Homo sapiens: one gene and its partner. The protein of the gene in region 1 binds, or shares a complex with, the protein of each later gene. Each region holds a gene or a part of one and is shown in the gene's direction. Other genes may lie near its edges.

Region 1 (7,489 bases):
TGATTAAATTTACTTTAAAAAATTGTTAAAAGTCCCCTCTCTAATATGTCACACAGTCACTTTAGATTATGTAGTTCTTGCTTAGTTTGTTTTAAAATGTTTCAATCCCAAGTGAGTAGACTGTGTAATTTATTTAAAAGGATTTGTGTAAAATGGCTTGTTAAAGATATATTATCTATCCATTATGTCAGAGCTTGTGAATATTATAATACTAATTTCTAGTGAGAACTAACTAAAAATAACATTCATCTAGTCCACATTTCTTTTCCTACATAATTTAAGTGGCTTTGTTATTGACTGAAGAGGACAATCGCTACAATTTTTATAGAGATGAGACTACTACTAACAGAATTCACACAGATGTTTAACAAAATATAGCCATTTACTATGTTAACATAGTAAATTCAATATTTTGTGATAAAATCTCAAATTCCTAAACATAAATCCTTTAATATTTTAATAGGTGTAAGTAGGAAAAAGGAATCTTTTTCTTTTTTGAGATGGAGGCTCACTCTATTGCCCAGGCTGGAGTGCAGTGGCGCGATCTCGGCTCACTGCAACCTCCGCCACCTGGGCATAAGAGATTCTCCTGCCTCAGCCTCCCGAGTAGCTGGGACTACAGGCGCCCACCACCACACCCGGCCAATTTTTATATTTTCAGCACAGGCAGGGTTTCACCCTGTTGGCCAGGCTGGTCTCGAACTCCTGACCTCAAGTGATCTACCCACCTTGGCCTCCCAAAGTGTTGGGATGACAGGCGAGAGCCACTGCATCTGGCCCAGAAAAAGGAATCTTTAGAGGCCCTTTGGTTATATACAGAACTTGGATTTTAAAATTTTTCAAAAAATCTGAGCTTAATAAACGCATTTATACAACAGAAATAAATTGAGTATCTCAGTCATCTCAATCTTATCCCTGAGAGAATTTTATACTTTGGGAAGTTGTGGGAAAAAAATGGTTCTTTTTCATACTAAGATGACATGACCAACCCAATATCAACAGACGGTGCCACTTCCTATCATTGGTCCTACTGCCTCACTAAGCCCACCTGTATCTTTCACATCATGTGTCCTGACATTTTGAGTGCTTGAGCACAGAGACTGCTGTCTGGCTGTGGGACTGAGTTGGGTCTGTGCAAGAACTAAGCCAGCCACACTGATCTTGATTATCTCAGTGAACTCACTGGCAGGGTCAGGTGGCCCACCTGGTATAGGCAGCAGGGAGGGCTTCAGTTCAGCTGCGTGTCTGAAAACCAAAGATTTAAAACATAGTAATTATTGAACCTCAGAAGAAAAACTCAGATTGAAAGAACTTAGAATAAGACCCTTTTTGAGTTGAGAAAGGTGAGTACTTAGATTTTTCATTTGCTTTGTTTGGGATTACTTACATCAGTATTTTATGTTGATCAGAAAGAAAGGATTCAATTAGCTATTGTTCGGTTAATAAAAATGTCAGCCACTGTAGGAGTAAGTTGGATGTCCAGCCTTTTTAGATTGCTTAACTTGGAAACACTGGGCTGGGAGCGGTGGCTCATGCCTGTGATCCCAGCACTCTGGGAGGCCAAGGCAGGCAGATCACTGGAGGTCAGGAGTTTGAGACCAACCTGGCCAACATGGGGAAACCCAATCTCTACTAAAAAAATACAAAAAAATTAGCCAGGTGTGGTGGTATGTGCTTGTAGTCCCAGCTACTCAGGAGGCTGAGGCAGGAGAATCGCTTGAACCAAGGAGGCGGAGGTTGCACTGAGCTGAGATCATGCCACTGCACTCCAGCCTGGGCGAGACAGTAAGACTCTGCCAAAAGAAAGGAAAGAAAGGAGGGAAAGAAAGGAAGGAATGAAAGGAAGGAAGGGAAGGAGGAAGGGAAGGAGGGAGGGAGGAAGGAAGGAAGGAATGAAGGAAGGAAGGAAGGAATGAAGGAAGGAAGGAAGGGAGGGAGGAAGAAAGGAAGGAAGAACAAAGAAAAGAGAAACACTGGTAGTACAGAAAAACTTCTGATAGAGGCCTAGAGTAAACCCGATTTTCTTGCCTTATCTGAAATAAGCTGCCTGGGGACTCACAGGCACAGACGAAGGGAAATGAGGAGGCTCTCCAGCTGTGTCATGAGACACCCAAAGGAATGCTTAGCATGTAGCATGCATGTGATACATCCCAGCAGGTTGCTTAGACACAGCTATCTTGGAGCTTTGCCACTTGCTTGGATGTCACTGGCTTTAAGTACAGGGTTCCCATTGTGAAGTAGGGGATCCTGGCTGAAACAGGGAGACATTAACATTACATTCTGAAGAAATGACATCAACCTCTCCTGATCTTGAAAGCCAACTACAAAGGGTGCCCAACACCCCAACCTTGAAGGGAGGCGAAGGTGAGTGGGACTGGACCAATTCAACAGGGTTCTGCTCCTAGCCAGGTGCTCCTGCTAGTTTCCTCAAAGACCCACTTTGCATTCAGACCAATCTTTCCTTTTAATAGTATAAATGATCAAAATTTTATTGAATGTCTAAAATATACTTTTTAAATGGGAAGCATGGTGAACCCCAATCTGCCGTTCCTCAACTCAACTCAATGCCTTCCTGGCTTACTTAGATCTGCCTTGGAAGGGACAGACCTGTCTCTGAACACTGTTCTGTTATTTGATTTTTCTATCTGTGCCAATGGGTTTCCAATCAAGTTTGTTTTTTCCATTTCATGCAGGTGTATTGGGCTGATGTATCTATGACAAGTGGTAGGTGGGTATTTTAAGAAAGCTTGTGTCATCATCTTCAGGTAACAGGAATGTATGAGAGTTGGGTGCCAAAACTTGTGGCCGCCCTGTACAAGAGAGAACCAGACTCCAATGTCATTGTGGTGGACTGGCTGTCACGGGCTCAGGAGCATTACCCAGTGTCCGCGGGCTACACCAAACTGGTGGGACAGGATGTGGCCCGGTTTATCAACTGGATGGAGGTAAGACTGGGAGAAGGAGACTTATGTGTCCAAAACAGTGTTTTTGACTGGAGCCAGAAAACCGGCTGTTCTTTCTTCCTTTTCTCTTAGATTTAAATATTTTCTGGGGGCATTCAAATCTTCAGAATCAGCGTGGATATTATTTTATATCCAAAAGCAACATTTTGATAAGAATAGACTATAAGGCCAATAAATAGTCCTGCCCTGCTCTATCGTTTGATATTTTCACAGTGAATAGATCTGCTGAGACCAATAACTAAGTGGGCCCAACAGAAAAAAGCTTGTGATTTTCGGACAGAGGAAAGATGGCATGTTCAGCCAGACCCTTCCCTACCAGTTGGCTGGCCTGTGGACATCTTATCCTCACCTTGACATACCAATCTCTTTCATGAAAATATTAATAGTACTTATTCTTTAGTGTGAAATAGGATGAACGTTTTTGTTGAGCATTGGGAGAGTGATGGAATTGAGCTAGGAAGATGTTGGAAGGGAAGGTGCATAGGATAGAAGGGAACTGAGGTCTGGAGTTCTGACTTAGCTGCAAGAGACCCACTTTTTCACACGATCCCTTGAGAAGTACCTCTGAAAAGTATCTTGGGGTTGGAAAGAAGCTGATACTCTGACCAAGGCAAATTATTTTAACCAGGTAATTGGAAGTAAAAAATAAGCTGTGTTTATTAGACTGATCATAAAAGACAAAAGTTCTTTTCTTGTCTTTTTTGCTGACCAGGCAAATGAACATGGGCAAACGGGATCACCTCCCTGGGGCTCAGGCTTCTCACCTGTTAAATGAGGGGCTGGACCATGTACCTCTGGTCCCTTCCACTGAATGTTTCCTGAGTCTGTCATTGCTTGGCTAACCTTCAATGATAAAGTGATACAGATATTTAGAGTAAGGAATAATGGGAAAATATATACCCATATACTATACATTCAAACATACACACATATACATATATGCATGCATATAAATGTATACGCATATGTATATGTGTATATGTTTGTACGTATAGTATATGGTTATATATGCAAATACATATACATATACAAACATATGCATATATTATATACATAAATAATACTATTTCAGATGCATGGAAAAACTTTGTAATTTAAATCTGCTATTAAAGAAAGAGAAAATCAATTCTGGATTTGTTTACGGAAAAGTGAAACAAAAGAAAAAGACAATTTTAACACTAGAGAATATTTTCTCTCTCTTACCTGTAACACAAAATTAAAATAAGTAGAATTAGTTTTCAGTATTTCCTATATTTGGAAAACAATATTTATATTCATTTTGTTTCTTTTAGTTTTATTTTTGGCAGAACTGTAAGCACCTTCATTTTCTTTTTCTTCCAAAGGAGGAGTTTAACTACCCTCTGGACAATGTCCATCTCTTGGGATACAGCCTTGGAGCCCATGCTGCTGGCATTGCAGGAAGTCTGACCAATAAGAAAGTCAACAGAATTACTGGTAAGAAAGCAATTTCGTTGGTCTTATCATAAGAGGTGAAAAGACTGTCATTCTGAGAGAGAATCAGAACAAATTTTGTTAAATACCCACATGTGTGGTGTTCTTCCCGGAGACATGACCAGCACTTGATTATCTCATTGTAGGGCTCTTTATTAGGGATAAGAAAAAACACAGACGCTCTCACTGGCTTACTATCCACTGGCAATAGCACAGAAATAAAGCATAATTACACACAATGCCTGCAGATTTCTCTGGGAAGCCTGTTTCCTCCCACTCTCAGCTCTGTGTTTTAGTAGTGTAAATGCACATCAGTACTAGGAGAAAAGAAGAAGGACCAATTCCAGAGGCCACTTCGAAAGAAGACCGTCATCTAGGCAAAGGTGTGGCATACACACAGAGAGAAAGAACCCACCACTGTTTATACATCTTCTCGACATATTCAGAAATAATCTACAAAAGGAAATCCAGCCATCCTGAGTGGAAACTGCTGCATAAGGCTAGTTTAAGAGACTCAAATTCATTTTAGAAGGAGCCAAGCCTCCTTTTATGTCTCTCTAAGTAAAGATACCATGACTGTAGAATAGGAGCTAATAAGAATCTAAATAGCTGCCAGTGCATTCAAATGATGAGCAGTGACATGCGAATGTCATACGAATGGAAATTTACAAATCTGTGTTCCTGCTTTTTTCCCTTTTAAGGCCTCGATCCAGCTGGACCTAACTTTGAGTATGCAGAAGCCCCGAGTCGTCTTTCTCCTGATGATGCAGATTTTGTAGACGTCTTACACACATTCACCAGAGGGTCCCCTGGTCGAAGCATTGGAATCCAGAAACCAGTTGGGCATGTTGACATTTACCCGAATGGAGGTACTTTTCAGCCAGGATGTAACATTGGAGAAGCTATCCGCGTGATTGCAGAGAGAGGACTTGGAGGTAAATATTATTTAGAAGCGAATTAAATGTGACTCTTATCCTTAACCCTTATTGACCCAATGTCCTACTCAGTAGCTTCAAAGTATGTAGTTTTCATATACACATTTGGCCAAATTATGTTTCTGAAGAATTCTGCAATGTTCAGCATGACCACCTTAGAGCCAGGCAGACAGCCATTTTATCTTTTATTTACTATACTGTAGGCTACACTGAGCAGTGCACTTACAGTAGCAAGAGAAAAAGGTGGGATTTTAGACAGGAAGACTCCACTGACCTCAATAATGGCATCATAAAATGCTATCTGGCCACATGTTGTCATACCTTGAATGTAGCTGCAAAGCCAATGGAAAGATTTTAGATGTTACTGGAACAGAAGATGTTAATTAGGATAAATCTTCCAAAATGTTCAGAACATAATGTTAGCTTAATGTTTTACTTTAATAATGTTAGCTTGTGTTAAATTTATGATTTTTGTTTGTTTGTTTTTTGAGATAGAGTCTTATTCTATTGCCCAAGCTGGGGTGCAGTCACACAATCACAGGGACTTGCAATGTTGCCCAGGCTGGTCTCAAACTCCTGGCCTCAAGTGATCCTCCTGCCTCAGCCTCCCAAAGTTCTGGGATTGCAGCTGTGAGCCACCACGCCCAGTTTACGATTTATTTTTAAGAGCCCCTTGCATACTTTATAGACATTGGGACCTACCTAGGATATTCTCGTTATTTTTGTGCACGTAATAGAACTTAGAGCATATTGTTACTATTTTCGATTGTCCTAAAAACTTACAAGGAATTCATTCTTATGGCATTGCTGATTATTTCTATGTTCATTTGATATAAAAGAGTGTTAGTAGGGGCAGAACCCTCAATTGTACATAATATCAATGATAAAATACAATTCATTTAACAATTACCCTCTTAAGATGTGGTTTCTAGAAATACAAATTGTCCCTAACTTACAGTTTTCCAACTTTACAATTGGGCTGTAACACCATTTTAAGTTGAGAAGCACGTGATGGTTTGACTTAAAACTTTTTGACATTATGATGGGTTTTGGGGGTATTAAGTGCATTTTGACTTACAGTATTTTTGACTTATGAAGAATTTATTGTAAGGCAAGGGGCAGGTATATGTTTCTAGAAGCACCTAGAAGTGTTAGACACTTTCAATGTAAGAGAAGGATGAGATAAACAAGGAAATCAACCTCCACCTTGGAGGCTTATTACAGCTTCATAAACATACTCATAAATATAAGAAGCACAAAAGTCAAAAATTCCCTGTGAACTTGCAACTTTCACTCTCTTGAAGGTGGGTGGGCCGCTACCACCAAGAATATCTCCTGAAATAGGGCCTACAATCATAAATGCACAGGACTATATCCTTGGGTGATTCTACTCTAACACCACATCTCACCTATTTTAGACATGCCAAATGAAACACTCTTTGTGAATTTCTGCCGAGATACAATCTTGGTGTCTCTTTTTTACCCAGATGTGGACCAGCTAGTGAAGTGCTCCCACGAGCGCTCCATTCATCTCTTCATCGACTCTCTGTTGAATGAAGAAAATCCAAGTAAGGCCTACAGGTGCAGTTCCAAGGAAGCCTTTGAGAAAGGGCTCTGCTTGAGTTGTAGAAAGAACCGCTGCAACAATCTGGGCTATGAGATCAATAAAGTCAGAGCCAAAAGAAGCAGCAAAATGTACCTGAAGACTCGTTCTCAGATGCCCTACAAAGGTAGGCTGGAGACTGTTGTAAATAAGGAAACCAAGGAGTCCTATTTCATCATGCTCACTGCATCACATGTACTGATTCTGTCCATTGGAACAGAGATGATGACTGGTGTTACTAAACCCTGAGCCCTGGTGTTTCTGTTGATAGGGGGTTGCATTGATCCATTTGTCTGAGGCTTCTAATTCCCATTGTCAGCAAGGTCCCAGTGCTCAGTGTGGGATTTGCAGCCTTGCTCGCTGCCCTCCCCTGTAAATGTGGCCATTAGCATGGGCTAGGCTATCAGCACAGAGCTCAGAGCTCATTTGGAACCATCCACCTCGGGTCAACAAACTATAACCCTTGTGCCAAATCCAGCCTACTTCCTGCTTTTGTAAATAGTTTTTTTAAAACTTTTAAGTTCAGGGGTACGTAT
Region 2 (7,641 bases), about 120 Mb from region 1:
TAGGGGGATGTTAAAGCCAAGCCTTGAATCCCTCCGAGGGCACCGAGCTAGGGGTGGGTACAGGAGTGCCGCTGTGGAGAAAGGTCTCTGGAGAGGATGGTGCCTGGGCCCTGCCTCTAGAAATCGAAGATGGATAGTGGCAGGAGGCAGCGGGGGTGGGAGCTTGAAGGACCATCTGAAGCTCTGCTAAGCGGAGCTAGACAGAGATCAGTCACCCTCACAAGTGGGGGACAAGAGGGACCCCCTTGGAAGAGCAAGGGAAAGGAGACTCTCCAGGGTTATGGTGGTGGGGCTGAGGGTGTCTAAGGACTAGGAAATGGAGCATAGAGGGTTCCAGGTGCAGAGCAGCATGGAGGGGAGCTGGGAGGCCAGGGAGGGTACCTGAGTGAACCACACGTGAACGAGTTAATGAACGAGCTTCTGGAACCAGGATGTGTTTCCCTCGTGGGTTCTAGGGGTGCCTGGGAGCTGCAGGACCCGTGGGAGCTGCTCCCCCTGGCCGGCCCGCCCACCCACAGCTACCTCTGAGTGCTGGATCCCAGGAAAGAAAAAGGGCTTGTACCTCAGTGCACATGGTGGGCAGCCTGCTCAGCCTGGCACTGTGGGGTCATCAGAATCAGAGAGAGCCGGGCACAGCGACTCACTCCTGTAATCCCAGCACTTTGGGAGGCCGAGGCGGGTGGATCACCTGAGGTCAGGAGTTCAAGACCAGCCTGGCCAACATGGTGAAACCCTGTCTCTACTAAAAATACAAAAATTAGCTGGGCGTGGTGGTGCGAGCCTGTAATCCCAGCTACTCAGGAAGCTGAAGCAGGAGAATCGCTGGAACCCCGGAGGCGAACATTACAGTGAGCCAAGATCCTGCCATTGCACTCCAGCCTGGGCGACAGAGTGAGACTCTGTCTCAACAAAAGAAATAAATAAATAAAAATAAGCGGAGAGTAACCCCAGGGGAGGAGAGTCTGGACTCTGCTCTAAAAACAAGCCCCTCCCTCTGCCAGACTCAGGTTCAGTGAGACAAGAGAAGGTTGGCTGCAGAGAGGGCAGGAAGGAGCTCAGAGCAGGGAAAGTGTTGCAAGGGCCAGCACATCTGCAGTCTGCATCTGCCCCAAAAGGCCCTACTCTCCCGGTATGGACACCCTACACTTGCCCCTCAGTCAGAAACACTTGCCCACCCTTCCTTATAGAAAAACTCTGCTCACCCCTCAGGCCCAGCCCCAAGGTGCCCTCCTCCCAACGCCTCCCTCATTCCAAACCCAATCTCACGGCAGGCTGCCTCCCAGAGATGGCAGTGCACAGGTCTGGATCTGACTCGAGCTGGTGTCAACACGGGGGAGGGCGTACAGAGTAGGACGCGCAGGCCCAGGACAGGGCCACACAGCCCCCCAGGACAGCAGAGCCCATGGCCCCACCTGGGCATGATGCCAGCATGGACCCTGCCTGCCGAGCCCCGCCCCCACATGTCACCTAGGCAGGATGGAGTGTGGATGGCCAGGCATCCCCTGTCCACAACCAGCACCAAGCTCTGAGCCCAAGGCTGCCGCTGCCAAAAAGAGCCACGTGAGTCATGCAGGCCCCACCGTGAGAGGAGGCCCAGAGAACCGCTGTGTCAGAAGGGCCAGCCCCACGAGCCAGCAGAGCAGGCAAGTCCAGGCCCCAAGGCACAGAGGTCTGTGGGCAGGGAGCGGGGGTGGCCGGGCTGCCCTTCAACGGTGCCCTGGGGTGTGCGCATGGCTCAGGGAGGAAGCCTGGGCCTGGAAAGGCGGTTGAGCCCAGGGGCGCAGGTGCAGGCTCGAAAATGACCCATGCAGCTGCCATCAGGACCACCAGACCTTAGCCCTGGCCCTGGGGGACCACAGCCCTGCCCTGAAGGTCTTAGGCATCATATCTTCACCCTGGAGTGTCTGAGAGGTCATGACCTTGCCCTGGGGGCTTGAGGGAGGCTGCGTGGTGCCTGGGTGGGATGAGGGGGTGGGCTCCACATACAGAGCCCACCACGCCTACCTGCCGGCTGTAGGCAGTGCTGGGGAACCAGGTGTCTGCCACTGCGGGTCCCCTTTCACACCTGCGCACCATCCCAGGTGGCACCTTCTGTAGGGGCTGGACCAGACCCACTAGCCTTTCCGGGGCGGGACAGAGGGAACAGCCTCTCAGTGGCGAGCACTAAATTTAATTCAATCTGCGAATCAAATGTGCTCTGATTGTCCCTAGGTGATTCTCGCAATAAGCACTTGCCTGGGCTGGGCAGTTTGCACCTGGGCTGAAGAGGAGCTGGGCCCAGAGGGAGGCAACGTGCAAGGGCCTGGGCCCCTGTGGAGGGGAGGCGGCAGGTGGAGGCCCCTTGAGAATCCCAGTAGCGCCCTTCCTAGGAGCAGCTCCTGCAGCACTAGATTCAAGGGCCTGTAGCGGTAGCCGGGGCGGGGCGCGGGGGAGGTAGGGCAGCAGGAAAGCGGGGCACCAGGGAAGAGGGGCGACAGGGAGGCGGGGCGTGGGGGAGGAGGGGTGAAGATGACGGGAGGCGGTGCACGGGGGAGGCGGGGCACAGGAGAGGCGGGTCGACAGGGAGGTGGGACGCTGGGGAGAAGGGGCGAATGGGGGCGGGGCGATGGGGAGGCGGGGCGACGGGAAGTAGGGGCAGTGGGGGAGGCGGGGCATGGGGTAGACAGGTGTGGGGGAGGCGGGGCACCAGGGAAGCGGGGCGTGGGGGGAGGCGGGGCGTGAGAGAGGCGGGGCAGTGGGGGAGGCGGGGCGTGGGGGGAGGCGGGGCAGTGGGGGAGGCGGGGCAGTGGGGGAGGCGGGGCGTGGGGGGAGGCGGGGCAGTGGGGGAGGCGGGGCAGTGGGGGAGGCGGGGCAGTGGGGGAGGCGGGGCGTGGGGGAGGCGGGCCGAGGGCGAGAGGGCGCAGGGAGGCGGGTGGGGGTGGGGCCACGCGCGGAGGGGCAGGGAAGGGCGGGGCGGGGCGGGGCGGGACGGGGCTGGGGGGGACAGGCATCAGGTATGAAGAGTTTGGGGCTGGCGGGGCGTGTCCGGCTGTGGCGTGGGCACCACTATGGGAGACCCTGGCTTGGCAAGTGACCTTGCAGCCTTGGCTGGGGAAGGGCTAGATGCTGGGTGGGTGCCGGTAGAGTGGAAAGAATGACAGGTTCAGGTGAATTAAGGAAGGATGGTTGACTCGGTGGCTGGGACATTAGAGACAGGTATTCCCAGCCTCAGGCGCTGTCCTAAGCCCAGCAGGTACTGACCCTTGATGGTCACCTCACCCTATGAGGGAGCTGAGGCCTGGGGAACCCAAGGGGCTAGTCCAGAACCCACAGCCGGGGGAAGGAGGAACCGGGTCTTAAACCCAGGTAGCTCACTCCAGAACCAACTCAACCTCTGTTACAGGTGGCCGGCCAGAAAATGCCCCACCCCACCCATTGACAGTCGGGGAAACTGAGGCCTCAGTAGGTGAAGTGCCTGGCCCAAGCACCAAGGCACACAGAGACGCTCAGGCTTGACCCTGGCTCCGGACGTCCAGCCCCTGCCGCTGCCCCACCCCTCTGCTGCCCTTGGGAGAGGGGCAGCTCAGAGCCTCGACTCTGCACTCTGCATCAGCACCCCCCAAGGGCTTGGGTGGGGTCTTGAGAGGAGGGGGTGGCCTCAGGGAGCGACCTGGGCTTTCCAAGCCTCTCCCAGAGCAGCCCGTCTCTCACACAAGGCCAGAAGGCAGGTGGGTGCTGATGGCTTTCCCAGCAAGAGACCGAGGGGGCGGGCCCCCAAGAGCTCCAGAAAGCTCTCCACCGGACACCAGCAGGAACAGCACTGCAGATGGAGCAGCAGGGGCAAAGACCCGAGGTGATAGTGAGGGGCAGCCGGGAGGCCTTGGGCCTAGCAGTGCATTGCTGAGTGTGGGTGAGGAGGAGGTGAGCACGCAGCCTTAGCTTGAGGGCATTGACTGTGTTTTTACTTAAATGCTCTTAAAGGGGCCTGGGTGTGATGCTGACTCTAGGATGACGATGCTTGGCCAGTGACCAGCAAATAGAGGGTCTGTGACCCCAAGGTCCTGTGACTATGGAGCCCAGACATGGGGTTGAGGGGTGTCAGGCATGGCCCATTCCGGGGCGAGGCTCCCTGCCCTGCACTGCAGGGCTGAGGCACTGAGCGGCAAGCCAGGCGAGGGCCAGCACCACCTTCCACCTGCCGTGGCACGGGTGCACAGGACGTTCCAAGGCCAACCACAATGACTTCTCCTTCCCCTCTGGCCCCAGATGTCCTGGAGGGAAACAACAGTCCCTGGCCTGGCGCCTGGAGCTGGGGACCAGTGTGAGGCCCATTGTTTGAGGCTGGAGCTGGTGGGGGCCACTAGGAAGCCCACGGCAATGCCCTTCATCCCACTTACCGCAGCTCCAGAGCCCTGCGGGAGGACTCAGAGTCAGGGACACAGCAGCGTCCGGCGAGATGAAGGCGCTCGGGGCTGTCCTGCTTGCCCTCTTGCTGTTCGGGCGGCCAGGTGCGGGGCAAAGGGTAACCCTGCGGTGAGGGGGCAGCAACAGCAGTCCTGGAGCACAGGGACCTCCAGGGACCCCCAGCAGGGGCTTAGGAAGAAGGAGGGGATGAGGCTGGAGTCCCCAGCCCAGAGCAGCATGGATGGAAGCTGGCCTGGGTCCCCGAGAGTCCCCAAATATCTGCGCCCCTGTTTATGTGGGGTGCGGGGAGGGGCTACCATAAAGGGCCAGCCCACAGCAGCTGCTGTTGTAACTACAATGCCAGGGCACACTCGGCTGCAGGACAGTGAGTAGGGTGAGTAGGGTAGTAGGACAGTGAGTAGGGTGAGTAGGCTGCAGGACAGTGAGTAGGGTGAGTAGGGTGTTCAGGGTAGGGGCCCTCCCCAGCCACCCTGGGGCCCGAGGATGGCTGGGGAGGGCCAAGGAGTTGGGGGCACGATGCTTGCCCAGAGCAGGTGTCCTCCATACCCGGGTAGCTGAGGCTTACAAGCATCCCTGCACGGCCAGGGAGAGGGCAGACACAGCAGGAGGAAGAGGAAGAGGACGAGGACCACGGGCCAGATGACTACGACGAGGAAGATGAGGATGAGGTGGAAGAGGAGGAGACCAACAGGCTCCCTGGTGGCAGGAGCAGAGGTATGGCCGCCCCAACCCCAGAGCCCTGCTGCCTGATCTGCCTGGAGCATTCTGGGCGGGGCTGTGTGATGGAAGCCAGCAGGCCACAGTCCTGCTGTGAGCTTGCCTCCAGCAGAGTGGGGGACACTCAGTACACCCCTCACTGCTGCTCACCATGACACTCAGTTGCCTTCCAGAGTAGGGAACAGGGGAAGAAGCCACCAGCTGGGAGGGTCAGTGGTGCCAGGATGTAGAGGTTAAATAGGAGTTCACCAGGCAGAGAAGGGCTCAGTGGGGGCCTAGGGTGGAGACACAAGCACAGAGGCCCCAGGGTAGGGTTCAGTTTTGTGGGGCAGAGAGAGCAGCAGGGTGGGCCGGTCCTGTACAGGGGAGGGCTGGATTGGCTGCTGCGGGCTGGGGAGCCAGGGAACCGCTTAGAGCAGAGCAGAGTAGGGCTAAGAAGAGCCCACCCTCACTGCCCACCTGACACACCCCTACACGTGGGCCACCCTCTGCTCTCTCCCATCCCGAGAAAAGCAGAGCAAATCGCCGCATCCAACCCGAGGGCCGGCCCCTCCCTAGCCAGGGACCACAGCGTGCCCCACCACACACAGCCCCTCCCTAGCCAGGGCCCCCAGCATGCCCCACCACACACAGCCCACCCCCCTCCCAGGAGCCCCAAGCCTGCCCTCAGCACGAGCCCTGCCCCACACACCCACGAGGTGTCCCCTGTGAGGCCCTCCTCTGCCAGGCCTGGTGCTCCTGGAGGCAGGACTGAGTCAGACCCACCTCCAGGTTTCTGTGACCACGGCAGGAGCCTGGGCAGCATTGTCGCAGGACGTGAGTGATGATGGGAAGTTCGCCCTGCCTGACCCGCAATCCCTTGCCCCCTAAACACACAGGCTCACGCACACAGCACAGCTTACAGGACCAAGTCAGGGGTCGCCCGCCCATCTGAGCAGTGGGTGCTGGAGGCTCACCAGGCTAGGCTTTGGGAGCACAGCTGAGAACGGGGAGGTGGACAGGGACGTGGGAGGAGACCCTGGGGGGCCCGGCCTCGGCCTGAGCCCGCCTTGTCCCCAGTGCTGCTGCGGTGCTACACCTGCAAGTCCCTGCCCAGGGACGAGCGCTGCAACCTGACGCAGAACTGCTCACATGGCCAGACCTGCACAACCCTCATTGCCCACGGGAACACCGGTAAGTGGGCGTGGGGCCGCAGCACATGCACCCCCAGGCGGCGGGAAAGCCAGGGGCCCGGAACAGAGCCCTGCAGAGCCACCTCAGAGACCCCGCCCATCCTCAGCACTTGTTCCCCACTCCCCTTCCCAGAGTCAGGCCTCCTGACCACCCACTCCACGTGGTGCACAGACAGCTGCCAGCCCATCACCAAGACGGTGGAGGGGACCCAGGTGACCATGACCTGCTGCCAGTCCAGCCTGTGCAATGTCCCACCCTGGCAAAGCTCCCGAGTCCAGGACCCAACAGGCAAGGGGGCAGGCGGCCCCCGGGGCAGCTCCGAAACTGTGGGCGCAGCCCTCCTGCTCAACCTCCTTGCCGGCCTTGGAGCAATGGGGGCCAGGAGACCCTGACCCACGGCCCCTCCCCACCCCCACCCGGCTCACCCCCGGCCCTGCCAGCACTCTGTCTGGTACCTTCCCCTCCTGCCCCTGCACCAGCTTTGGAGAATGGATTTGGAGTGTCTTGGGCGATCCAGCCAGCGCAGGCCCCCCGGCCCGGTTGCTTCCTCAGTTCCCGGCTGTGTCCTTGGTGTCCTTTCTCCACCACCTGTGAGCAGCAAGACTGCCGCACGTGGGCGCTGGGTCCAGACCTCGGCTGCCACGCCCCAGGACCTGCAGCCCTCATGGGGGCTGGGGATCCCCATCAGCACAGCCAGGCAGAGATGATACCCACCACACACCTGGGGGCCCCCACACCCAGTCCTCACCCTTAACTTCTGCCATGGGAATTCCTCCATCTGCAGCGGTCACACGGGCCCACCCTGCCCTTCCCCAGGTCGGCCTCTCCGCTGTCTGGAGGGAAGGGGATTTGGAGGGAGGCTGTCGTCGCCCCCAGGAAAGACGGGCCTGGGGGAGGCGGGACAGTGGGAGAGGCGCGCTGAGGATGAGAGGGCACAGGGAGGTGGGTTGGGGTGAGGCCACATGCGGAGGGGCGGGGCGGGGGGGGGCTGGGGGGACAGGCACCAAGTATGAAGAGGATGGGGCCAGCGGGGCCTGTCTGGCTATGGCGTGAGCACCGCTATGGGAGACCCTGGCTTGGAAAGTGAACTTGCAGCCTTGGATGGGGAAGGGCCAGATGCTGGGTGGGTGCCTGTCACCTTGAGGTGACCATCTAGGGTCAGTACCTGCTGGGCTTAGGACAGCGCCTGAGGCTGGGAATACCTGTCTCTGCTCTAGCAGAGGCTAAAGCAGGCTAGAGCAGTGGAGGGGTGGAGTTGATGAAAGGAGAGGAGTAGATGAGATGGAATTTTTCCAGCCTCATCCTGGCCTGCCCTCTAGACTCCAGTCCCCAAGCCCTCAGCCTAGT

The links. The genes of interacting proteins can lie anywhere in the genome.
Region 2: the proteins of LPL (region 1) and GPIHBP1 are in contact, whole or in part, in a crystal structure (PDB 6OAU), measured with the Homo sapiens proteins. Residues at the interface, in NP_000228.1 of Homo sapiens: Tyr367, Gly368, Thr369, Ala371, Glu372, Glu374, Leu403, Met404, Lys406, Lys430, Lys440, Ile443, Cys445, Ser446, Arg447, Glu448, Val463, Lys464, Cys465, His466, Asp467, Ser469; in NP_835466.2 of Homo sapiens: Cys68 (codon at 6,201), Lys69 (codon at 6,204), Ser70 (codon at 6,207), Leu92 (codon at 6,273), Ala94 (codon at 6,279), His95 (codon at 6,282), Gly96 (codon at 6,285), Asn97 (codon at 6,288), Thr98 (codon at 6,291), Glu99 (codon at 6,294), Ser100 (codon at 6,429), Leu103 (codon at 6,438), Thr104 (codon at 6,441), Thr105 (codon at 6,444), Ser107 (codon at 6,450), Trp109 (codon at 6,456), Cys110 (codon at 6,459), Thr111 (codon at 6,462), Asp112 (codon at 6,465), Ile117 (codon at 6,480), Lys119 (codon at 6,486), Val121 (codon at 6,492), Glu122 (codon at 6,495), Thr124 (codon at 6,501), Val126 (codon at 6,507), Met128 (codon at 6,513).

Annotation. Positions count from the first base shown.
Region 1 is NC_000008.11:19,949,004-19,956,492, forward strand, and holds part of LPL (lipoprotein lipase precursor), read left to right. Parts: intron 1-2,765; coding exon 2,766-2,945; intron 2,946-4,306; coding exon 4,307-4,418; intron 4,419-5,116; coding exon 5,117-5,350; intron 5,351-6,837; coding exon 6,838-7,080; intron 7,081-7,489. UniProt on the Homo sapiens protein: Key enzyme in triglyceride metabolism.
Region 2 is NC_000008.11:143,208,833-143,216,473, forward strand, and holds the start of GPIHBP1 (glycosylphosphatidylinositol-anchored high density lipoprotein-binding protein 1 isoform 1 precursor), read left to right. Parts: upstream 1-4,385; 5' UTR 4,386-4,435; coding exon 4,436-4,487; intron 4,488-4,989; coding exon 4,990-5,118; intron 5,119-6,180; coding exon 6,181-6,294; intron 6,295-6,426; coding exon 6,427-6,686; 3' UTR 6,687-7,641.